5 separate regions of the Homo sapiens genome follow, and regions 2, 3, 4 and 5 are each reported to be linked to region 1. The links are microRNA targets in miRTarBase. Many come from high-throughput screens and were not tested one by one. Region 1 holds a microRNA gene; each other region holds the end of a gene's coding sequence.
What was found. Region 1 holds the annotated microRNA hsa-miR-567 (AGUAUGUUCUUCCAGGACAGAAC, at 1,843-1,865, shown strand). A microRNA usually pairs through its seed, bases 2 to 8, with sites in the 3' UTR of a target mRNA and lowers its output. Matches are read on the target gene's strand: a 7mer-m8 pairs with bases 2 to 8, a 7mer-A1 pairs with bases 2 to 7 and ends in A, and an 8mer does both.

Region 2: the mRNA of SV2B is a reported target of hsa-miR-567. The part of its 3' UTR that is shown has no 7-base or 8-base seed match.
Region 3: the mRNA of BNC2 is a reported target of hsa-miR-567. Seed matches in the 3' UTR shown: 7mer-A1 at 3,855-3,861 and 7mer-m8 at 2,411-2,417.
Region 4: miRTarBase lists ADH1B as a target of hsa-miR-567. Seed matches in the 3' UTR shown: 8mer at 1,067-1,074 and 7mer-A1 at 1,675-1,681.
Region 5: the mRNA of DGKH is a reported target of hsa-miR-567. Seed matches in the 3' UTR shown: 7mer-A1 at 2,727-2,733, 7mer-A1 at 2,723-2,729 and 7mer-A1 at 2,685-2,691.

What each region holds. Positions count from the first base shown.
Region 1 is chr3:112,110,974-112,116,080 of GRCh38, forward strand. MIR567 (microRNA 567) reads left to right here and starts at 1,828; the gene lies at 1,828-1,925. It overlaps C3orf52 (chromosome 3 open reading frame 52), which reads left to right. Exons shown (of 6, transcript NM_024616.3): 5 at 1,991-2,172. RefSeq lists enhancers at 3,863-4,122, 4,143-4,222, 4,233-4,282, 4,513-4,602.
Region 2 is chr15:91,291,840-91,296,946 of GRCh38, reverse strand. It overlaps SV2B (synaptic vesicle glycoprotein 2B), which reads right to left. Exons shown (of 13, transcript NM_001323032.3): 13 at 1-4,578. The coding sequence ends at 4,395. Among named protein-coding and RNA genes, the nearest start is that of CRAT37, 170 kb to the left of the region's middle. RefSeq lists an enhancer at 4,934-5,107.
Region 3 is chr9:16,414,835-16,419,939 of GRCh38, forward strand. It overlaps BNC2 (basonuclin zinc finger protein 2), which reads right to left. Exons shown (of 7, transcript NM_017637.6): 7 at 1-4,815. The coding sequence ends at 4,155. It overlaps LOC124902125 (a long non-coding RNA gene), which reads left to right. Exons shown (of 3, transcript XR_007061425.1): 3 at 455-542. Among named protein-coding and RNA genes, the nearest start is that of LINC03041, 140 kb to the left of the region's middle.
Region 4 is chr4:99,303,432-99,308,534 of GRCh38, reverse strand. ADH1B (alcohol dehydrogenase 1B (class I), beta polypeptide) reads left to right here. Exons shown (of 9, transcript NM_000668.6): 9 at 671-3,564. The coding sequence ends at 695. Among named protein-coding and RNA genes, the nearest start is that of ADH1A, 15 kb to the right of the region's middle.
Region 5 is chr13:42,228,320-42,233,426 of GRCh38, reverse strand. DGKH (diacylglycerol kinase eta) reads right to left here. Exons shown (of 30, transcript NM_178009.5): 30 at 1-4,328. The coding sequence ends at 4,239. Among named protein-coding and RNA genes, the nearest start is that of AKAP11, 41 kb to the left of the region's middle.

The DNA of each region.
Region 1 (5,107 bases):
GCTGAGGTAGGCAGATCATGAGGTCAGGAGATTGAGACCATCCTGGCCAACATGGTGAAACCCCATGTCTACTAAAAATACAAAAATTAGCTGGACGTGGTGGCGCGTGCCTGTAAACCCAGCTACTTGGGAGGCTGAAGCGGGAGAATTGTGTGAACCAGGGAGTCGCAGGTTGCAGTGAGCTGAGATCGCACCATTGCACTCCAGCCTGTGACACAGAGAGACTCAAACAAGACAAAACAAAACAGACCCAGTGTACATGGTACTTACGGTGACATCTCTGCACTTTATTTCAAGAAGTCCAGGCAGAGGTCCTAAAGTATTGAATTGAGGAAGAAAAGCCATTGCTTCCCAAAGGGTGCTGCTGCACATGGGTGGGAGGCGGCTAAATCCCTGGCACATGCATTTGTGTCTACAGGGGCATTGTGACCTCAGCCCTGGACTGGCCCAGCTAGAACCTGGAAAAATGCCCTTTGGTTTATTAGCTGCTAGACTCACTCCAGTGGTGGGCAGCTGGGCGAAAGGCCCTGAAAGTTGCTCTTTTCTCAAAATTCAGCCTCATGTAAATTTACCCTGTGACCTGCCATGGGGGATTAGGATGGGCTGGCCAGGCCAGGCTAGGTGGCCTGATTTTCCCATTCAGCTTCTGACCTGGTCTTCTGAAAGTCAGACTCTGGCCCTCTTCATTAGCCAGCCCAAGTCCTTGCCCCTGGGAATGCAGGGTGGCTGGCTGTGTAGGTGTTGATCATCATTAGCGATAATTAGAGGGCAGAGCTCAGGGAACAAGTTATGACACCTGCAAACTAGGTTAGCTGGATTGCAGTTTGAAAGTGCATTTTTTGGCCCTCCTTTAGTGGCATCCTTGAAACTATGAGTTTCTTCAGAGTCCTGACTCTCCATTATTCATTTGATCTGCAGGATCTGGCACATCTCCCAGCCGTAGTAGAGTTTATAAGCTCAATTGTCAGCCACCTTGTAAGATCGAAGAGTATCGGCCTATGTGACCTGTAGCCAGAAGAGGGAGCTCTTTGCCTATCCTTAGCAGGGGCAGTGGCCTGATTCACACTAATGGGACTGGTGCATCTGCAAAACTTCCCCAAGGTGATAGTCTCAGATGTGGCCTCCTGCTCATTATTTTATTGCTGGTTCTTAATCTGGCCCATCTTAAACCAAAGTAATAGGATAACTATGAATAAACTAAATGTTGAAGTAGCATTTAAAGAGTAGCATTAGACACTAATTAATGGAGGGTAGCCCTTGATTATTTTTATTTTGGAAATGGGAAAAAATGTTCTAGGAAGATGAAAATTCCCTTTCCTTAGGTCCCATTACTGAGAGTTACAGGGCTTGGTTATCTTGCCCTAGGGGCCTCTGGAAATGGGACAGAAAAGTTTCTCACTTTGGGGACAAACCAGGGAAGCCTGATTTGTTGCTGATACACAGGGTGGTCTCTGTCAACGTTCAGAAGTTCTGGACCCAGCCAATGGTAGGAAACTTTGGCTGTGCCTTAAACATTTTCATAGGTCAAATAAAGAATTGGTTAAACTAAATATCCCTGGCACACCTTTGTGGGGGCAATGCTGAGAACATGAAGAAGGAATGTGTGTGGAGAAAAGGGGAGGCTTCCCTGGCTTGCCTTAAGGGATGAAGGCTGGGGTTGGGACAGATGGTGGGTCAAGCCTGGGATCTTCTCAGCATCTTGACTGGAGATGGGCACCTCTACCTCTACCTCTGATGGCCTCTCCCAGTGGATTCCTAGAGGATAGGTACTAGGTGGAAGGAGGAGGTTAGGATCACCTCAACTTTTTGTGATGAATCTATGGAAGAGGATTCTTATAGGACAGTATGTTCTTCCAGGACAGAACATTCTTTGCTATTTTGTACTGGAAGAACATGCAAAACTAAAAAAAAAAAAAGTTATTGCTTAAATTCATTTCTTGAGTTGCAGTATGATGCTGTTTATGTTTTAATGTCTTCCATTGCCTTTCAGTGGTGAAAATGCCACAGTAACGTATGACCTGCAATTTGGGGTTCCATCAGATGATGAAAATTTTATGAAGTATATGATGAGTGAGGAGTTGGTGCTGGGCATTTTGCTACAGGATTTCCGTGATCAGAATATACCTGGTTGTGAGAGTCTGGGGCTTGATCCAACATCCCTCTTGCTCTATGGTAAGTAGAGCAAGTAAAGAAGTCAGAGTTGTGACAATAAACAGGTGAACCAGATTGGGGTCAAATTGGCTTGGTTCGATTTGGCAACTGTGGTGACTTGGTACTGTGTCAGACTATTCATTTATTCACTCATCCCCTCAGCAGATGGTGTTGCTGTGAGGTGATGTTCCCCTCTCTGTGGAGGCTACACAGTCCGTGCCCTCCATAATTAGACAGTGTAGTTGGGGAGCAATTATGGAAAAGATAATTCAACTATAAAGATGAACATTGCTACATGTTTCCTCATGCAGTTCACCCACATTCTAAGCCCTGTATCCTACTTTACAACATGATTAGCAACCTTTATGGAGATACTGTGGTTTCACAAGAGAAGTAAGAATTGAAGAATTGGAAATAAATGATACAGCTAAATTGCTGAAAGAGTATCTCAATATGGGGAACCTATTTCTTTTTCTGTTGAAGGCCACTGAGACCATTAAGAAATTAATAGAGGGGTATACAAAGACAAGTTTATTCCTTTCCTTAGAAAATTATGACAAATTTACTTGTCAACTTTTAAAATTAAGAACAGAACAAGGAAATAGATATGTTCTTTAATAAATGTAACAAACACCCCATTTATCAGAATCTGAGAACTTTTGACACTCAGAACAAAACCTGACAGAAAGGAAGGTCAGAAGGCCAAATGGCTTCAAGCCCTCAAAATATCCTTCCATTGCTTTGTAGTGAAGCTCTGGCCTTTGCTGCTGATCTCACTTTCTGATACCTCGCTCGGAGGCTTGTTTGCTCTTATTTAGCCCCTAATGCCAACAATCTTGAATATTTTATGTTCTCATCCACAGTCCATCAGAATCACTTTCTCCACATGAGTAGGTTCTCAGTAAATACTAGTTGAATGAATGAAAGGCAAATTAGAAGTAGTTGTGGTTGGCAGCAGGTGCATTAACGGTCTAGAATCAGAAGCATGGAACAGGGGGTTAAAAGCACAAGTGTTAGTGCATAGTACAAGACAAGGTGTTTATTATGATGATGACACTGTTTCTTGAGGATGAGAGGCAAGAGTAATGTTGGCCTAAGAAGGCAGAACGTTATGTAAAACAGTTCTTAAGAATGCCATTCAGAAGGCCAAATTTTAGCTCACTGGAAGTCTCATAAATGGAGATCTTCCTCACAGAGCATCCTGAATAAAGTGTGTCTGTGGGTCAGGCAGACACTATATGTGTGTGGAGTGAAGAGATTGTGCCCCAGTTACAGGAATTAAAAAAAAAAAAAAAAAAGCCAGGCGCGGTGGCTCACGCTTGTAATCCCAGCACTTTGGGAGGCCGAGGCAGTTGGATCACCTGAGGTCAGGAGTTCGAGACAAGCCTGGCCAACATGGTGAAACCCCATCTCTACTAAAAATACAAAAATTAGCCGGGCATGGTGGCAGGTGCTTATAATCCCAGCTACTCGGGAGACTGAGGCAGGAGAATCACTTGAACCTGGGAGGCAGAGGTTGCGGTGAGCCGAGATCGCATCATTGCACTCCAGCCTGGGTGACAAGAGTGAAACTCCATTTCAAAAGAAAAAAAAACCCAGAAACCTTCAGCCTCCTCCCATGTGAAGAGGCCTGCGATGCCTGTGGGGGCTGCTGCTGTGGTGTGGTTGGTCTTGATTTTCTTAGGCCCCTTGCAAAAATTGTTACTGGCTCTTTCCAAATGGAGGCCAGGGAGATGGGCAGAGGTCTGAGGAAAGGTTTAAGAGGCTTCCAAGGCTGAGAGGTTCAAATAGTACAGGATAAAGGGCAGGCTGCTTGTGAGACCTGAGGAGGGCTCCCAGAAGACCCTGAGCTTGGCCAAAGAGACTCAGCTGTTTCCCCAGGGCTTGGTGCTCCAGCAGGTGCTGGGAAGGCAGCTGTGAGTGGAACAAAGTCTCTGCTCTTCTGGAAATTGCATTCTTTCTCTCAGACATTTCTTCTGACGGGACATGCTGAGAAAATGTGGGGTTTTCTGTGACCCCATGTCCCACTTTCCAGAGCATGAATGTGCAATATTTGAGCCATTTTATGTTTTCAGAATGTGAGTGTCACTGCCCTCTCAAAGGGAAGGGTGCACAGAGAAGCAGTTGGGAAGTGAGGAAAGAAGAAGAGGGACTCATCGCAGGCATGCAGGCAGATGGGGGATGAGCTCAGAGGCAAACTCTAGAGAAAGGGAAAATGTGTCAGGGAGAGGCCCAGGGCCCTGGGAGGGACCAAGAGGGATGGAATGAGTTCTTACGCCAGTTTCTACGTGCTCATGAGCTGTGGGCTTGGGGGATTACCATCCCCGCCCTGTGATTACCCAGGCAACTAGTTTCCCACAATGGTAATGTTCTTAGTCTTCAAAGAGCAAAGATTCTTAAAATTGTTTGGTTTGTGTGCTCCTTAGAGAATTTGAAGACAGCTGTGTACCTTCTCCCCAGGAAAAAAAAATGTACCTACTTCTCCCCACAACACAAAATTGTACAGACAATTTCAGGGATTCCGAGTATTTCCCTGAGGCCAGCCTATGGTCCATTTGGGGTTTGTATATGTGCGCTTTAGAAGCAGAATCCAAAATTAGATTGTAATTTAGATTCCTGAGGGGTTTTGTGTGTGTTTGCTTCTCATTCTCTAATTTGGAAATACGGCGATTATTTTGACCTGACTGCATGCATATTTGGATGCCTTATAAAAATAAAAACTTAAAATATAATGATAAAGGAATTTTTTAAGTCCATCATCCCTCACCCTTCCCTATCTTTGGTCTTCTTCACCTCCTAGATGAGTGGGGCCCTGGGCTAGGAGGGGGAAGTCTGTTTTACAAAGGTCGAAGAATAGGTCAGCATCATGAGTTATTTTGGACACAGAGGAGGTACTTGGTACTGTTCTCACATGGGAAGGAGTCAGCTAGTAGACTGAGTAGGGAAAAAGGGCAAA
Region 2 (5,107 bases), not on the chromosome of region 1:
TGAGCGTGCTCCCAACGATCGGGCAGAAGGAGCATGCGCCCAACGATCGGGCAGAAGGAGCGTGCGCCCAACGATCGGGCAGAAGGAGCGTGCGCCCAAGATCGGGCAGAAGGAGCGTGAGCCCAGCGATCGGGCAGAAGGAGCGTGAGCCCAATGATTGGGCAGAAGGAGTGTGCTCCCAACGATCGGGCAGAAGGAGCGTGTGCCCATGATCGGGCAGAAGGAGCGTGTGCCCATGATCAGGCAGAAGGAGTGTGCTCCCAATGATCAGGCAGAAGGGGTGTGCTCCCAACGATCAGGCAGAAAGAGTGTGCTCCCAACGATCAGGCAGAAGGAGCGTGCTCCCAATGATCAGGCAGAAGGAGTGTGCTCCCATGATCAGGCAGAAGGAGTGTGCTCCCAACGATCAGGCAGAAGGAACGTGCGCCCATGATCAGGCAGGAGTGTGCTCCCAACGATCAGGCAGAAGGAGTGTGCTCCCAATGATCGGGCAGAAGGAGTGTGCTCCCATGATCAAAGGCAGCCACTCCAGCCCTGGCTTTCCTTCCTCCAGATTCCCTTCACATGAGAGTAAAACAAACCTTTAACTTACTATAAACTTATTATAAATTGGTTTCTTTGAATTTGCAGTCATATGCCATCCAACATAATCCCAGGTCAGTTAGCACAGATGCCCCCTAGAAAAGCCAGATGTGGAAGTGGAGACACCTTTCCCAGGGCTACGGGGATTCTTACCCCACTCACCAATGTCCCTCTTGCATTCCTGGCCCCTATCTCTTCTTCCATGTAACCCTTTCTGTAAAACTGATTAGGTAAAAATCGATTAGGTCTGTAGAAAATGGGCAAGGGCATCATTTCCCTTACCTGGTTTATAAAGATAAAAAATTGGTACACTCCTCAAAGAAAAAAAAATAAGAGGGAGCCACCACATTTGGAAATCCACAGCTGACAAGTAAAGTAGTAGCAATCCTTTTACACATGAAAGGTGCAGTTTGCGGATTGTAAGGTCATCGTACTCGGTGTTTATGGCCAATTTAATATCCGCTCACTGCAAGTGGAATGAGGCAGGAAGCAGAAACTGTGGCCAGTTTTTTCATCACTGTGTCCCCAGGGCTTGGCAGAGAGACTGGCCCATGGTCAGGGCTCAATAAGGATTTGCTGAATGAATAAATGGATGGATAAATACTAATCTTTTTATGTTTAAACTGATGCTTCCTCTCATTATAGTAAAGCCATCAAGGGAATAGTCAATGAATGGTCTCAGGGAATGGCGAGTATTTGTCACATTGTCCCATTCCCCAAACTGCAGGCTTCCCCAGAACTGTCATGAGAGCATCACCTTAGGCCTTCTCGCCCACTCCTCACATTACATGTAATCTGGGCCACATCGTTTAACCTCTCAAGGTCCCCATGTTGCAAAATAAAAGTTGAAGGAAGCGATTCTCAATGTTTCTCCCAGCTGATTCAATCAATTTTGGAATACAGAAGAGACCTTAGTGCCTGAAAATAATCTCTAACCCCAGTCCTTAAGGTTTTCTTACAGTTATTTTTATTATTTAGTTTTAATGAACTAACACAACGTAGGAGGGAACGCTGGGTTGGGGTTTACTTGTTACATGACCTCAGGATGATGTACTACAAACTTCACAGATAGGCACACCTCTTTCACTAATTATTTTTAATAAAACAAAAGATCAAAAATCAGCATCAGGAGATGACACAATACAGTTGAGACTATGGAAAGCAACTATTTCCAAGCTGGGCATCATAAAATACATCATCAAGAACTGTGAACAGATTTGCTAAACAAAGGAAAGCCTCATCCCTTTAACCCTCCACAGCCGACATCGGGAGTCTCTTGGGGTAGAACATGAAGTGAAAAAGAAGTGGATGGCCAGAATGCTGTACATTGTCCCCCAGTGACCTGCCACAGAGACTATTTTTAAAGACGCATTTATCTCAGCAGGAGTGACGGCATTTAAGAAGTAGCCCGGTACTCAGGCTAGACAATCCTGCAAAAGTCTGCAGAGCTTGGCTGCACCCTTTACAAAGACCTGAGTGATGGATGAGATGGGAATTGCCCTTGATTGGCTAGGTGGCTGGTTTAAAGAGCCATAAAGATAATGCAGAAGTGAGATCTTGGAAACCAAATGGAGTTAGCCCCCAAATTATTGCAGCCACCCCAGCACTCCAATGTTAATCCAATTTTAAATTTACAAGATCCATCTTAACTAGAAATGCAGGCTCTAACTGTCCTGCAAGTTTTTTAAGTGGTAGCTGCTCAATGAATTGTATTATCCCATTAAAGAATAATGTTTTAGATGTGGTAATCCCAGACTCACACAATTCTCTTTTATGAACCTAGCCACTGTATTCATATGGAAAGTAAATTACAGCTATATTACATCGAGCCTTTCATTATTGACAGAGCAATAAATGTTAGTACTCCTATAAAACACTGAGAGAAAGATTAATACACAGTGGTATATATATTTGGAGGAATCAGGGTGTCCAGTCAGAGTCAATATGTCTTCTCTCCCTGTACAGAAAAAAAGGGAGGGGTGTAAATAAAAAGGTGAGGGTTGACAGAAGGAGAGTAAACATTTTAACCATTAAAACTGATCTCAAATCGACGGTGGAAAGGTGTCATAAGATTTACCCCTACCAACCCGTTAATTGAGGAAAATTACAGAAAGATGTCCCGAAGCTATCATAGGACCTAAGCATTTCTCCAATACTGAGAAAACACTCGATATAGCCATTATTATTCTGTTTTAAATTTTTGGAGATCTCTGCCAGGGAAAATGTGGCACTTGCCCATTGAGAGCACTGCAAATCAACTCAAACAACTAGTTCTTGCAGGCTGATGTTCATCCGGCCTGGGCAGGTGCAAGTTCACCTCCGCTGGCAGTTGTGCGTAGCTCACTGTCCCCTCCATTGTCAGACAGTTCTGATGTTTTTCCTCTTCCATGCAGTCAAGACTTCAGTCTATTGCTGACCTTCATCAGAGAGGTTTGTCCTAAGCTCCTCCCCCAACCCACACCCCTGTTTATGTTCAAAGCTGGACTTCAGGAAACAGTTCTCTTAAGCACTGAAGAAAAACATATTTGGCATCCACTACACTCCCTAACTCCCACTCCAATGGACTCTGTTTCAAAAGCTCTGGACACATAGCATAGATTTCTCATGAGACCTGACCATCCTAACAAATATGGATTGCATTTGCATTTTACCACTAGAACAAACAAAAAGTATTTACATTTGGAAGAACTGTGGCTACACTTCCCCATCCTTCCCTCAGTCCCCATGTTGTTTGATTCTTGCCTGCAAAGAGTACCAGAGGCCACTGAACACATCTCACATTGTTTTTGGGTAGTGGCAAAGTAAAATGCCAGCACTGAAGATGGTGAGCTTGAGTTTCACAAGTCATCTGTGTAAGGGAGAGAAGTAACTACTCACTACACCTGCACAAAGAAAAGTGCCTGGATTAAGCAGACTGCACAATGTGAGTTTGTTAATTCATCCTCCCAACAGAAAGTTAAATGGCTGTAAGAAATTGTGCTTGCATTTCATTTGATCAGACCTCATTTCCTGGGACCTCAAACACCAAGTTCTCCCAAAATATGGCTAAAATGCTGGCAATATTTGCAGATACCAGTTGTGGAAATTAAACCCAAATAAAGTTATATACAAACTTAGTTTACAGAATAACTATCCCATTCCGTTTCTTTGAATAGAGCAAAACAGAAATAAATATCCTTCTTAAATGTATTACCTAATTATCATGGAAAGCCTAGGAGACATAGGAGAAAAGTAGATCTCTATAGATGTTGCTCAAATACTTGGCTTTCTAGATCAGAGTATCCTCAATGCTACTATGTCAATTTTCGAGTGGAAAATATGATAGGTGATACTTTTAAATGCAAAAATATATACTTCAAGCCCAATCTTCATATAATGACTCTAACTTCCAGCCAAGTTGATTTGTTAAGTTGTTGGGCTCCAAGGAGCTTTCTGGAGGAACCTGGGTGTTTCTGACCCTCTAATTCCTTTTCAAACGCAAGTTAAGTCCTTGCACTTGACTTAGAGAAATGCTTGCTCCTCGCATAGTGTGTGCACTCACTGGAGAATCCTCTCCCTGCCTTGGACTGGGAAGACTTGAAGTTAAACACGCAGCTCTGTGATTCTAAGGGTGGCTCAGGGCACCCCCAAATCAGTCACCTGAGTTACAAACATATTGACAGCTGAAGTGGGTCCTAAACTAGGGGTCACAAAGTCAACTTCTCCTCCCGTGCTATCCAAGGTGTCCTCCGGACCGTGATAGGCAGGAAGTGTGGATGCATTTCAGTGTCCTGGACAAGATTCTCTCGACCTTTCCTTTTCCCATAGGTTGTTCACATCAGGACCTGTTCTCGAGTCTCTGGCAGTCGAAGGGCAATCAGGCCACCCCCAACCAGAGAAGCAGCAGCCAGAAGGATGGGGACCACTTTGGTTATCCCAACAAAAGAAGCAAAGATGGTGTTTCCCAGGATGGCGCCAAATTTGCATAATCCATTGAGAATGCCGAAGGCTGTTGCTCTGTAAAAGAGGAATGGAAATAATTCTGACATTCTGAACCACATTAGATGAACAGGACTGGGCTCTTTCTTTTCCTTATTGCAGGGGGAAGAGGGTGCAAGGGAGTTTTTTTTCCTAAATATAAAAATAACACATTCTCATTGTAGTCAAATTTGGAAATACAGAATAATATAAAGATGCATGGATATCTAACCTCTTCACCGAGACACAATCACCTCTATTAACATTTTGAAGTATTTTCTTCAAGTGTTTTTCTTTTTTGTTTTTTTTTCAAAGATATCTATTTAAAACATTTTTATAGGTACTACATGCTTACTATGGAAATCTTGAAAGGATGAAGAAGTATACAAAGCAGAAAGTGTAAGTGTTCCCCCTTTTAACACTCTCAACCCTCCTGAAGCAGAGACTGCCAGTTGCCCACAAACAGCATTTCCCCAAATGTAGGACTACATTTCCCAGACTGATTTGCTGCTGAGCATGGCCATGTGACTTAGTTTTGGCCAATGGGATGTAAGTGCAAGTGGCAGCA
Region 3 (5,105 bases), not on the chromosome of region 1:
TCACATTGTATTTGGTGGGAACCTAGTGCATAGTTTCTCCTGAGGAGAAGCCTCTGGAATAGCCCATTCTTGATATATTCAAAGTTTTTTTTTTTTTTTTTTCCTTAGAGCAATGTATAATAATGGGGCTGTTAACCAGTTAAGTGCCTTTCTCCTCTTACTGGAAGGGCCTGAAAATTCATGACCAAAGAAATAACACTATGAGGACAGTGGCACCATTGTGCCAAAAAGGTTTTAAAAAATGTTTGCCATGTTGAAAAGGAAAACATTAACACCTTTAAACCTTTAAAAGGCATCAGGCTGAACAGGGCAGCTGGACTAAGATCTGGAATGAGTTACATTGGGTTGACTTATTTAAATACAATTAATATCAGAACAAAGAATGCCAAGGATTTTTATCACACTTTTAAACCAAATTCCTCATTATCTATCCTTTTTTTCTCTCTTTCCATAGCATGCAGATATTCCCGAAAGCGGACTAAACCTGATATTTACAAAAACATAGTTTTAAATGATCAAGACAGTACAAGTTTCAACATCAGCTAGAGAACATGCACAGTCATACCGCCTAATTTTGTACCTGTGATAAACTCTGGCTAAAACCAATCACATGGGGAAAAGCTTGTCGGATGAACATCTACATCACTATTAATTTTCAGCCAGCATAGAATGCATGTGGCTTGAGAGAAACTGTTTAACAACAAAAAACTCCTATGAAAAAGCAAATGAGTAGGAATGGGCAAAGATGAGCTCCATGACTAAAACGCTGATCTCTTTATCCTTCCTGTTTGCAAATAAGCCATGGGATCACCATCTTAACTAGAATTCTAGTTAAGTCAAAACAAGACACTCAGGCACACACTCAAGAACGAGCAATACTTTGGAAACAGAAGAATTGTACATTTTATGATTTTCCATTGCATGTACTACATCCATCCACTCCCCTGTCCCTTTTAAGCAAATAGGCTTTATATTGGAAAATGTTATTTACTCATTTAGAAGGCCACCGTAACGACTGGGCACTTGAGGCACAAAAGTAGTAGCAAATAGGGGAGATACTTAAAAAGTGTCAGCTGTCCAGGACTTATTGCCACTTCTCTGACAAAACACAGGTGAACACATTCATGTTTCCAAGCAAGGGAAACTCTACTTCTAGAATCTCATTACTTCTGGACTTTTTCTAACTGGCTATACACATTAGCTTGGTTTGCAGCAAGTAACAAACATTTGTTCTAAGCCTGGTGCATTTGCTGATGTGACTGCCGACAGCTATGTAATTCACTCACGAGGGCTATCTGACCTTTTATTTGACATTAAATTAAACAGACTAAACATTGCTGTTGTACAAGATGAGTTCTAGTAACTCAACTGAGTGTAACTTTTCAAAGTTGCTGAAATAAAAATGTGTATTTATTTTCATAAAACTACATGTAGTCTATGCACACTGCAAAAGCCAGAGTTTCTATAATGTTTTGTTGGGATATTAAAAATCTTTTCCCACCCTTTTTGAATCTAACCATTTGGTAATGGGGCAACAGCACAACACAGAGAACGCTGAGAGGACCAAAATGTTTGCAAACAAACTTTCATTATTCTAGTTCAATCTTTCACAAACATACTGTACAGAGTCTTATATGGTATAAAACAAAGGAAAACATCTGTCTGTTCAATTTAACACAACACCAAAATAAAGCAATTAAGACTTTGGGGAATTCAAAGTACAAGAAAACAAAAACGATTATTACTAATTCCTCAGCTTTTTACCATAAACACTTGTCATTTAACATAGTGTTTGATATAGTTTCTTTTGTACTGCAAATACTTTTGGTCTTTCCTCCCCGTAGAACAAATGAAGAATTAAAATGGACCCCATAGCATCCTCTGAAGGAGGTGAAAAGATAAAGCTCCTAGACATAGCTAGCTTATCTTTAAGAATCTATTGTTTCTGAAATTTTCACAACAAAAATACTGAATCCCCAACTAATGATGCTTATTTTGGGAAACAATAAATACTGTGAGGTACAATAAATCCTACAGGAATAATAACAACAGAAACATATTAACAGTTTCCTTTGGCAAATTTAACGGAAGTGAATGCTGATGTGAACATAGAAAAAATAATTACAAAAACATGAAAAATGGAAACGACATAAAAGTTAAAATAAAGGGATATTTCTAACTTTTAGACTGATGAAAGAAATGTCTGAGGCCATTAAATGCAAAAAAGAAATACATTCTCTTTAAATTATTGTGTACTGTTTGACAAAATATTCCTTGTTTATCTCTTCTTTTCCCCTCCACTTAAAAAAAAAGGAAAAAAGAAAAAAAAAAGACAACAAAACAGTCTGCAATGCACACCCTAATGGTTTTGGCTGCAGACTGAACTTGAGTAAATATCATCATTTAGTCAGTATGTTGTGGTAGCTGAGGCTGCCGATGTGGTTAACCAGCTCAGGCAACATGTGTAAACATCGGAAACAAAACAAAACAAAAAAGGTTTGGAGAATAGTCTCTCTCCTCTTTCTCACTCTCAATTGCTTGGTTTCAGGCTTGCTTTCATTTCTCTCTGACAAATCGTGTGGGGAAACACAAAACACTGAACATTGAGAGATCCTGCTTTAAAACCCCCTTCTTCTGGCTTTTCAGAAAGGAGTGTTGCTCCATTCAAGTTTAGCACATGTTTTCAAAGCTTCCAAGTACTGCTGCTGTTAAATGCCTTTTGATTTTGTCTACCAAACAGGCCTGAATTATAGTACGACTGCAGAATTTGCAACAAATTAGACAGCCATACAACAGACCGACCCAGTTCAGAGGATTTCTTTTTAAAGGATAAGGGTTAGGGCCTTGGAAATGAGTGTTCGACTCTTTTACTGTATTCATCTTTGTTCCGTAGCGGGTAATTTGGGCTTTTGTATCCTGAAATATTATCCTGCCTCTGAAGAATAAATGCCTTGGCTGTTTCACACCACATAATTTTGTTTTCCTTTTATGTAACTTAACGTATAAGCAAGAAGGATGCAATGTTGATTCTAATAACATTCGGCACTTGAAAGAATCACCAAGTGTTTTTTTAAAAAGCGGTTTTCTGGTGGCCAACAAATTGGCCTGTGGTTATGTTGAGTGACTAATTGTATTTTCTTTTCTGGAAACTTGTGCAAAGTTGGCAGTTTTGTGTTAACACTAATACTTTGTTTGGCATTTGTGCCCTATACTGACCAGACCATTTTTATACAAGTGAATTTTTTTTAAAAAAGACACTTACTGAAGTATGGCAATAGTTTAAGGATAAAAAAGAAGCATGGTTATTACACATCCCCTTGTAGTGTATGAAAAAAAGTGCATGACGGGATTTATGTACTAGTACAGGACATTTTAAAAAATCAGATCTGTGCTGTAAAGCATGCCAGCACCTCTTTAGCACTATATCTAACAGGTAGTAAAAACAAGACCATGTTTTTTTCTTTTTTTAAAAATGTGCATTAATGCTAACATAAATGAATAGAGCTAGCCAGCAAACTATCTTTTCCTGCATATCTAACAGCTGGATGTAACTGTAAAAATTAAACAAAAAAGTTAAACAACCATCAATACAATTGTTTTACATCAATGGCCCCTCAAGGCTAAATATTTACAGGTGAATCTGCCATGCTTTAATTGAAGATTCTTTCAAAACCTTAAAGTTCACAAAAGACAACTATAAGAAGTTCCTTTTTGTTTCTTTTTTCTTTTTTTTCCCTTTTATTTTTGCAGGCAACAGTCATGGGTACAACAAATTGTCTCTTTGGGGAAGACCAAGAATTATTCTGTCAAAACTGGGGCTAGTTGCACACTGTGTGTGTGTGTGTGTGTGTGTGTGTATGTGCATGTGTGTGTGTGTGTGTTTAAAGGGGTACTCTGTTTTCACCCTGAAATCAAAGATCCCACTCCTTTCCCAAAACTATAAAGGGAAGTGAAAAAAATTCAAAAGCACCTAGTGTTTATCTTGTTTATCTCAAGGAAATACGTGTGTGTATATGTAGCCACAGAGCATACATAAATGCACACACACACACACACACACACACACCCCAAGTACATAAGCGCACACTGACTATGGCAGTTCAAACACGTAGGCCATCTGGTGAGAGCTGGCATTTGTAGTGTCCATTCTGAGACTAATCTACTGAAGTGAAGGGAATGTTTTTGTGGAGATTAGGGTTCTGACTGTGCCGATTTCGGCTTCGTACAGAGGAAAACATCATATTGCAACCTGGGACTTTGCACTTGTGCATTTCTCTCAAATGCACAGTTTTGTAGTGCACTCTCAGGGTCCCCTTGTTGCTGTACATTTTGTGGCAAATGTTGCACATGATCCCACCATTGCTCCCAGACAAGCTGCTGAACATAAGAGATCCTGAAACTTCAGCCCCTAGGCTGCCAGGGAGGGCAGGGGCCTCGGCCTTGTGTGCCGACTCCCCACTGTCACTCGCCCCGTCAATGTCATCGAGAAGAATCCCCTCATCGCTGCCTGCGTCGGATTCTCTGGAGGAATGGATACTGCTGCTGGACTGGAGGCTGGAGGTGGTGCTCAAGTCAAGGACCATGTAGTCCTCTGCCATGCCTCTCCCATACCCGTTCAGGTGGGAGTCTTCAGTCCCTGCGGGAGAGGAGGCGTCTTCCCTGACATCGAGCCCCATGGGGTGCTGGGCACCATATATCTTCACCAAAAATTCATCGCGGAGGTCCTTGCTAAGGGAGGGCTGCGACGAGTCCAGGCCCATGTCATCGAGTTCTTTGGTCAACAGTTTACGATGTAGGTTTATGTTGGCACTGTGTCTAGGAAAACAAGAGGGAAGGGGGGGTACGTGGATGGGGGGTGGGGAAAGGTGAGAAAAAGGAAAGCATTTTAAAATTGATTCAGCTTTCACTAGGTATCAAATAAGCACATTCACTTCTAATTACACCATTATAAAAGCAAGCATTCCCCTATATCCTCAGGATCTGGGAGTTAGTGGTGGTGGTGAGAGGTGCAATCAGGGGAACTTTCCATTAACATTATTTTTATAAGAGAGTTGACTCTGTCAATGGTAGGATGAATGCAAACCCGTGCACCTTTTTCTCAATGA
Region 4 (5,103 bases), not on the chromosome of region 1:
ATCAACTTTATTCTCTACTTCTACAAATCCTTAAACATCCGTATCAAAGGTCTTTTAAACTTCCAGCATAGTCTTAACTTTGTTAAATTATCAATTCTTTCAGGCAAGTTATCCATCATCTTATAATTTTTGCAAATTTGTATTTGGGTTTGAATCCCAACACTCCATACTAGATGTGCTACCAGAGCAAGTTACAAATCTTTCTAAGTCTCAGTTTTTATAATCTCTAAAATGGACATAATATGGGAACCTACCTCTTAGTGTTGATGTTTAGGTTGAAGTTTAAGAAAATGCACGAAGAATGTGACAAATAGTAAGAACTTACTGCAAGTTATTATCCACTGTTGTTTTATATTCCTTATTATACCAGGAACGTGGGCACACAAAAATGATTTTTTGAAGATGCTAATGTAGAATTAATGTAGAATTGAAATGACAGGCATACTCAGGATGTTGTGAGTGAGATTAAGATTGGAGAAAAAAAGAAAAGAAAAGAAAACCAAAAAAGATGAACTTCCTTTTTCTTGAACCAAATGTATGGGGATGGAAATAGGGTAGCTGGGATCACAGACAGATTTTCACTAAGACACCTCAGATGCTCCTTGGACTCTCACAACAAGCATGTGGGTTGTCTAAATGTTAACACAATGTCTCTTCTTTCCTATTGCAGTATCCGTACCGTCCTGACGTTTTGAGGCAATAGAGATGCCTTCCCCTGTAGCAGTCTTCAGCCTCCTCTACCCTACAAGATCTGGAGCAACAGCTAGGAAATATCATTAATTCAGCTCTTCAGAGATGTTATCAATAAATTACACATGGGGGCTTTCCAAAGAAATGGAAATTGATGGGAAATTATTTTTCAGGAAAATTTAAAATTCAAGTGAGAAGTAAATAAAGTGTTGAACATCAGCTGGGGAATTGAAGCCAACAAACCTTCCTTCTTAACCATTCTACTGTGTCACCTTTGCCATTGAGGAAAAATATTCCTGTGACTTCTTGCATTTTTGGTATCTTCATAATCTTTAGTCATCGAATCCCAGTGGAGGGGACCCTTTTACTTGCCCTGAACATACACATGCTGGGCCATTGTGATTGAAGTCTTCTAACTCTGTCTCAGTTTTCACTGTCGACATTTTCCTTTTTCTAATAAAAATGTACCAAATCCCTGGGGTAAAAGCTAGGGTAAGGTAAAGGATAGACTCACATTTACAAGTAGTGAAGGTCCAAGAGTTCTAAATACAGGAAATTTCTTAGGAACTCAAATAAAATGCCCCACATTTTACTACAGTAAATGGCAGTGTTTTTATGACTTTTATACTATTTCTTTATGGTCGATATACAATTGATTTTTTAAAATAATAGCAGATTTCTTGCTTCATATGACAAAGCCTCAATTACTAATTGTAAAAACTGAACTATTCCCAGAATCATGTTCAAAAAATCTGTAATTTTTGCTGATGAAAGTGCTTCATTGACTAAACAGTATTAGTTTGTGGCTATAAATGATTATTTAGATGATGACTGAAAATGTGTATAAAGTAATTAAAAGTAATATGGTGGCTTTAAGTGTAGAGATGGGATGGCAAATGCTGTGAATGCAGAATGTAAAATTGGTAACTAAGAAATGGCACAAACACCTTAAGCAATATATTTTCCTAGTAGATATATATATACACATACATATATACACATATACAAATGTATATTTTTGCAAAATTGTTTTCAATCTAGAACTTTTCTATTAACTACCATGTCTTAAAATCAAGTCTATAATCCTAGCATTAGTTTAATATTTTGAATATGTAAAGACCTGTGTTAATGCTTTGTTAATGCTTTTCCCACTCTCATTTGTTAATGCTTTCCCACTCTCAGGGGAAGGATTTGCATTTTGAGCTTTATCTCTAAATGTGACATGCAAAGATTATTCCTGGTAAAGGAGGTAGCTGTCTCCAAAAATGCTATTGTTGCAATATCTACATTCTATTTCATATTATGAAAGACCTTAGACATAAAGTAAAATAGTTTATCATTTACTGTGTGATCTTCAGTAAGTCTCTCAGGCTCTCTGAGCTTGTTCATCCTTTGTTTTGAAAAAATTACTCAACCAATCCATTACAGCTTAACCAAGATTAAATGGGATGATGTTAATGAAAGAGCTTCGCCAATTAAGAAGGGCCATGTAAATGTGGGTAACCTGATTGTTTTGTCAAAAATGCTAAAGCGGGGTGGGGGGTGGCGCAGTGGCTTATCCCTGTAATCCCAGCACTTTGGGAGGTCAAGACGGGTGGATGACCTGAGGTCAGGAGTTTGAGACCAGCCTGGTCAACATGGTGAAACCCCATCTCTACTAAAAATACAAAAATTTGCCAGGCATGGTGGCAGGTGGCTGTAATCCCAGCTACTCAGGAGGCTGAGGCAAGAGAATCGCTGGAGCCTGGGAGGCGGAGGTTGCAGTGAGCAGAAATCTTGCCACTGCACAGCAGCCTAGGCGACAAGAGCAAAACTCTGTCAAAAGAAAAGAAAAGAAAATGCTGAAGGAGTTACTCAGGGTCAAGAAAGTTTTCAGAATGTCCGTAAGATAACATCATCATGGGACACTACCTGTTGCTGGGTGCTCTGCGGCTTTTACACTGATGCTGATTGTGTGAGATCCAGAAAAAGAAAATGGAGTTCTACATGCCCATCTCACAGCAGGGTCATCAAATCCTGCTAGTGACACAGAAGCTGACATCCAGCTCCCACCCGCCTTCCTCCCAGGTTCGGGGAGCAGGTAGAGTGGGAGCCATTAGGTGGGCTCTGCCAGTGTTGTCATAGAGTGGCAAGTCCTCCATGGGATGGGAGTGGCATGTGGGAGCCTTCTGCATCATGCACTATGAAAAAAGAAAATTTACTATGGGGCAAGTGGTTCATATAGTTAAGTGATTGTATATATATATATATATATATATATATATATATATATATATATATATACACTATGGGGCAAGTGGTTCATATAGTTAAGTGATTGTATATATATATATATATATATATGTATTCCAGTGTAGAAAGTATTGGCTGGGTCTGTAATCAAGTATTCCACAGAAGTGCCTTCATAGGTGCTGAAACAGGATTATGAGAGTGACAGACACAGGACTGAAGACAGGGAGAAAATGTGCATGGCTGTGAGAATATATTGCTTTGATTCTTTGACTTCTCATGATATATGAAAACAAATAAAGTGGGGGGGGGTGACTTCAATAATATCACGAACATATTTAAAATGAAATTCTGAGCATGGAGAAAAATTTCAAATTCTGGTATAAACAAATAATCTAAAAATATAGATAAGGAAAAAATGTTTTCATTTTTTTGGTCATATTGATTTGGGTCATATATGATTGACCAAAAAAAAAGATATTTCTAAAATCCTGGTGCTTTTTCATTTAAAAATAGACAACCAAAGAGGAAAATGAACAATGATGGAAATTCGTGGAAGAGGAAACTAAAATGGCAAAATAGCATATTAAATGGCACTGAGCCTTGGTGTGATCAAAAAAAAAAATAAAGCAAAATGAGATATTACTGCTTACCTATTAGCTTATGCTGTTGGTAGAAATAAATGTGCATTGTCATAGGTTTCTGACAAACAATTTGTGATTTTTATTAAAATTTTAAACATGCATATCCCAAGCAATATCACACTTGGGAATTGACTCCATAATTATAATTATCTGTGTATAAGAATATAGAAACAAGACTATTAGCAGCAGCCTTACTTGTAGAAGAAACAAAAATTTTTAAACTCTCTGATTGATTGACAGAATAAGGAATGATAACGGAATGATAACTCCCTATTTTGAATGGGAATTTTTTTTTTTTTTTTTTTTGAGACGGAGTCTCGCTGTCGCCCAGGCTGGAGAGCAGTGGCGCGATTTCGGCTCACTGCAGGCTCCGCCCCCCGGGGTTCACGCCATTCTCCTGCCTCAGCCTCCCGAGTAGCTGGGACTACAGGCGCCCGCCACCTCACCCTGCTAATTTTTTGTATTTTTAGTAGAGACGGGGTTTCACAGTATTAGCCAGGATGGTCTCGATCTCCTGACCTCGTGATCCGCTCGCCTCGGCCTCCGAAAGTGCTGGGATTACAAGCGTGAGCCACCGCGCCCGGCCTTGAATGGGAATCTTATTAAAAAAAAAAAAATAGGGGACTGGGCATTGTGGCTCATACCTGTAACCCCGGTGCTTTGGGAGGCCGAGGCAGGTGGATCACTTGAGCTCAGGAGTTCCAGACTAGCCTGGACAACATGGCAAAAACCTGTCTTTACAAAAAAACACAAAAATTAGCCAGGCATAGTGGCATGCAACTGTATTCCCAGCTACTTGGGAGGCTGAGGTGGGAGGATCGCTGGAGCCCAGGAGGCACAGGTTGCAGTGAGCCATGATGGCACCATTGCACTCCAGCTTGGGCAACAAAGCAAGTCCTCATTTCAAAAAAAAAATTTTATCTAAAAATCTGGAGAAATTAATATGAAGCATCAGAAAGTATAAAAAGCAAGGTACAGAATAATGTGTATTACATGATCCAATTTTTGTGAAAGAAAAAACAAAACAAATTAAAATTCCTATTTATTAGTATATAGGTTCATATGAGCATGGAGAAAGACATAGAAATGTATAAAACAGGCTGTTCCCCTCAGAAACCTGGATCTGAAAAGAGTTGAAAAACTAAAGTTAACTTTTGAGCCATAACTGTTTTGAACTAATATTATGTAATTTCTTTACATACTATTTTTGAAAGTCTTGAATAGAGGCAGGACAATGAACTTTAACAATTTCTTCAAGAATGTCAATCGCATTCTTTAATCATTTGTAGGAGCTTGACATCAATATTGTCAGTTATGATGAGATTTATGACTTTATTACTTTTTTACCTCATAAAGAAACAGTAATGAAAGATTCTAGCTGCCAACATGTATATGTAATTGTGAACTAATTTAAAGGTACTGTAATTGAGATTTTAATCACTTAAAAAAAAAAACTGACCACATAAAGGTCAAAATAATATAAACTATCACAGCCACCTCTAAAGCCTTGGGATGATATTACTCATAGAGTCATAGAAAT
Region 5 (5,107 bases), not on the chromosome of region 1:
AATGGATGTAGGCCAGTGCTAATCGTTTGAGAAATTTTGCTAAAGGAAGATTTTGATTCGGTAGATCTGCAGTGGGCCTGAAATTCTGCATTTCTGTAAGCTCCCAGGTAATATTGATGCTGCTGGCCCATGGATCACATTTTGAGTAGCAATGATCTGCACCAGTGCTGTCCAATAGAATTTTTGCAGTGATGGAAATTTTCTACATCTGCACTGTCCACTATGGTTACTGAACACTTGAAATGTAGTTAGTGCAACTGAGAAATGGAGTTTCTAATTAAATTAATTTTTTTAAAGAGTAGGGGTCTTGCTCTGCTGCCCAGGCTGGAGGGCAGTAGCATGATCATGGCTCACTGCAGCCTTGAACTCCTGGTCTCAAGCAATCCTCCCACCTCAGCCTTCAGAATAGCTGGGACTACAGGCGCATGCCACCATGCCTAGCTAGTTAAAAAAATTTTTTTTCAGAGACAGGGTCTCACTATGTTGCCGAGGCTGGTCTCAAACTCCTGGCCTGAAGCCATCTTCCCTCCTAAGCCTCCTGAGTCACCGGAATTACAGGCTTGTGCCATTATGCCTGGCTTAATTAAATTACATTTAAATTTAGATAGCCACATGTAGCTACAATATTGGACAGGATAGATCTAGACATTCATGGGTCATTTCTTGTCAGCAAGAACAATATATATCACAATCCCAAATGACCTAATCCATCAATTCACTTAGATTATCCAGCAAGTATCCTTTTACAGAACGCAAACTGTAAAATTAGTGTCTTTAAATTGTTTTCTTCCTAACACTTAGTTAAATGACCCACCATGTATGCTTAAGCGAGAAATGAAAGGGGTCATTTTGTAGTGGGTTAATTGATGGGGAAAGGAAAGTAGAAGGCAGTGAGAATTTCAGCAACCATGATTATATTGGGCATTGGGAAAATGAAGAGCCAGGATGTAGGAAAGAAACTCAGAAAGGGAGGTGAAGAGACACTAAAGAGAAATATTGCATACTCAGGAATTTTATTTAGGTCTGATTCTGTCCCTTTCCTCCTTTAAAAGCAAGTTCTTCCTCAGGAAATGGAACTGAAAGAAAATACATTCTGGCTGATGGCCTCCCCTTCCCTGCCCTCCCACCAGCCCCGATCCTCCAGGTGAGGAAGAGCCTATCAGGGAGAAGAGGTGACAATTCCAGCCATTACAGTCATTGCAGTCAGGTGCAGGTGGGAACTTCTCACCCCAGCTCATGCATAGATCAAAGCATAGAGGCCCCATCCCACTCCCCAAAGCTGTGATCTGATCCCATGGAGAAGCTCTTCCCTACTTTTTATTTTTTTTGGTAACCCCATCCGCTATAAGAAGAGGAATTATTTATGATACTGACAAGAGCCTAAGGAGGCTCTGAAGACCCCCTCCTGGAAACAGGTGTCAGTGAAGTCATTTGGGCCCTGCACAGCCATGCATAGACAAAGCATACAGAGAAAATTGCTCTCATTTAACAAAAAGTATATCCAAATTGTCATTTTATAGAATTTCCCTCATCCAAAGCCATTTGCAGGAAAATTCTAGCTAATTAAGGATTCCATTAAGAGACTCACGCTCTACCAACCGAGCTAGCCAGAAATGCACTGTAGGATTCCATTAACTGAGACTTTACAGCATATACAAAAGATGTCACCTACGAGTGAAAAGCTCACCAAACGAACAAACAAAAATTCAGTCCTTCACATCACACTCTTAAATTTGGGACACATCATAGCTAGACTCTTTTCTATTAGCAAAGGGGAATGGGGGGTGAAAATCAATATAGATATTTATATTAATACATTATTTATGCTAGAGTTCTTCCCCTTCTTTCCCTCACATTTCCTTTTTTTAGTAAAGATGGACAGAGATCTGTAATGTTAGAGAGTTCTGGGAACCTGGCACCTCCTGTTTGGTTGCACAGGAAAGTGTTCACAGGAGCAGGACAGCACTTAGGTGGGACTATCAGAGGGACTGAAAAAGGAGACCTCTGACTTCGTAAGTGCAGATACAATTAGAATAATTGCATAATTCATGACTATTTTTTTTTGAGATTGAGATGGGAGTCTTGCTCTGTCACCCAGGCTAGTAGAGTGCAGTGGTGTGATCTCAGTCACTGCAACCTCCATCTCCTGGGTTCAAGCAATTCTCCTGCCTCAGCCTCCCGAGTAGCTGGGATTACAGGTGCGTGCCACCACACCCGGCTAATTTTTGTATTTTTAGTAGAGATGGGGTTTCATACACTGGTCAGGCTGGTCTCGAACTCCTGACCTCCGGTGATCTACCCACCTAAACCTCCCGAAGTGCTGGGATTACAGGCGTGAGCCACAGCACCCTGCCTCATGACTTTTTAAACTACTTGATATAACTGTCTTTGGAAAATTTCCATTTATTTACAACTTAGGTAAAATATATAGTCAGACATACTTGGTCAGGAATCCCTCAGGGTCATTTATTTTAAAGACATTAAAATTTTGTGATTTTTACTAGTAGTTAAATACCCAAGTTATAAACAAGAGTAAAGTGTCAAACAGTTAAACTCCTTTGATGTAATTAAATAATATGCCTGACAATAGTTCATTTTAAATGCTCGCCTATTAGTATTTCTCTTTAAACACTGGGGAAATAATTGTCTAGAAAATATCAATGATGCCATATCACAAGGTTATATGTATGTAGGTATATATATACACATATAAATGTATATGTGTATGTATGTATATATACACATATATGTGTATATGTATATATCTGTGTGTATATATATCTATTAAGCACCTAGCAGGCTACTTCATAAAAATTGTCACCACTGAGTCAGTACCCTGTTTATTTCTCTTATATACAAATTTTAAAATATTATAATTAATGTTTTGGTATATAATGGCTAAAGAAAGCTTATTTAAGGATATTTTTGTGACTTTTTGATACGTATGCCTTTGGCTTTCAAAGATTTGATCATTGTAATGTTGACTTCTAATAATAAGCTACACTGAAGTACAGTGGTTTAGAAAAAGGAAAATAATATCCACCTGATAAGAATTAAGAATTAAGTGAGATAATAATAATAACAACATAAAGCCCTTAAGAAAAAATTTAAATCCCTTCTGTTTGGAAGATCGTGTCAGAAGTCACTGTAGAGAGCGGGTGAGTCTGGGTTATCTGTCAGTATATAAATCTCAGTTGACACCTCAGGGAATTCCTGGATATCAACACTTTACTATATTATAAATTCAAATAGAATATTAAATAATTATTAAATTGAAATTAAAAATTAGAAACAAAATGTGGAAATTTTGGTTTGGAAAGCTGTAACAAGTTTTGTCAGGTAAGGGAGCATGTAATTTTATGAAAATATCCAGAGAATTTTCTTAACGTGCACGCCTACTGCTTATGATAGATTGAAATAAAATTGACTTGCATGTGATGTATATCATTTGTTGATTATGGCACAGACACACTTTCACAAAGTCTTAGGTACAGAATATTTACGCAAAATCCCACATTAAAAAACAGAAAAGTGCAGTGCCCTTAACCAACAAAAATGTACTTTAGTAATAAATTAAATCCCATTAACATTAAAACTGACATGAAAGCTATTTAAAGTGTTACAGTATTAGATGTGACATGCAAGAAAAAGAAAGACATTTCAGGCAGGAACATCGTGCATTAAGATTTGCATTCATTCATAGTATTGGAAAGGTTTTCAACATATTTGACCACTAAGCACTAGGAGTTGGAGGTGATACCAATCTACATTCAAATCACAACTTAATTTATATTTTAGTCTCCTAACCTATGATTTTAAGAAAATGGCCAATGCCCCCCCGTAATGAAACCTAGGAAGTTTTAACCACATATTGTTATGCAGTTGCACAGTAGGAACATTCCATCAGACCAGATCTATGGAAAGTAAACATTTTGCAATTCCACTGTTTAGACAATGCAATCGTCTCAGATTCCTCCTACCTTATTACCATTGTGAATATATTTGAACATGTCAGGTTTGCACAAAAAGAAAATGGCTTTGTGGAATGTATTGTTCGGCACAAAAATATTTTCTAATACCTCAAATCAAAATTTCACCCACAGCAAAATATCAAGCCACAGAGGTGCTTCAGTGGTGCTTACTTATCTATGCAGAAAACTACAAGAACAGCCACTTGCTTCCAAGGACTTTGTATTAAGTGGCAATAACTTCTCTTCCAAGAAATAGCACCAATATGATTACACCTCCGACTGTGGAGTGCTCCTTCCAAGCTCTTTAATTCCCTGGAGAATTCGCTTCACATGACCCACTTTCGGTATCCCCAGATCCTAAAATAAAAGAACAGAAAAAGGTAGAAATAATTAAAAATGAAAGAAAAAACACAGAAAGAAAATTTTAAAAATGAAAGAAAAGGAAAAAAGTTTATTGAAAATAGAAAATTGGGGATTAAATATTTAACCAGCAAGAAACATAATTAGCATTCAGTTCATTCATTTTAGTTTATATTCAGTGATTCAGGAAGTGAAAGCTAGAAAAATAAGTTCATAAAACAAAAATAACCTGACACCAAAGAATTCCCAACTGGTACAAAAAAAAATCACATTCTACATAAACTCTTAACTGTGACATTCTCATAATTATACACAGTGGCTTTTGACTTCAAAAGTCAAAACCAATTTAGTTTCTTTCTTTCTCTTTCTTTCTTTTCTTTCTTTCTTTCTTTATTTCATCTCTCTCTCTTTCTTTTCTCTTTCTTTCTCTCCCTTTCTTCTTTCTTTCTTTTCTTTCTTTTTCTTCTCTCTCTCCCTCTCTCTCTCTCTCTCTCAAAGGCTCTTTTGGGATCTCTGAGAAAAAAATGATGCGGGACAGCAGGGCACCCACAATTAGTCCTAAGGCAACATTTCTTGTGCTAAAATATTAAATTTAAAAGTGAGACCTAATTCTAGAGAAAGATACCAGTATCTGCTACATAAATTTGGACTGTAAATGCATTTGCAGTTGCATTACAAGGCTTCAATTTGAGAGGAATATTTAATTTAATTAGTCTTTATACTTTGTAATGTATGTGTGTAAAAAATTACTTAAACATAATTATCTGTTGGTTGAT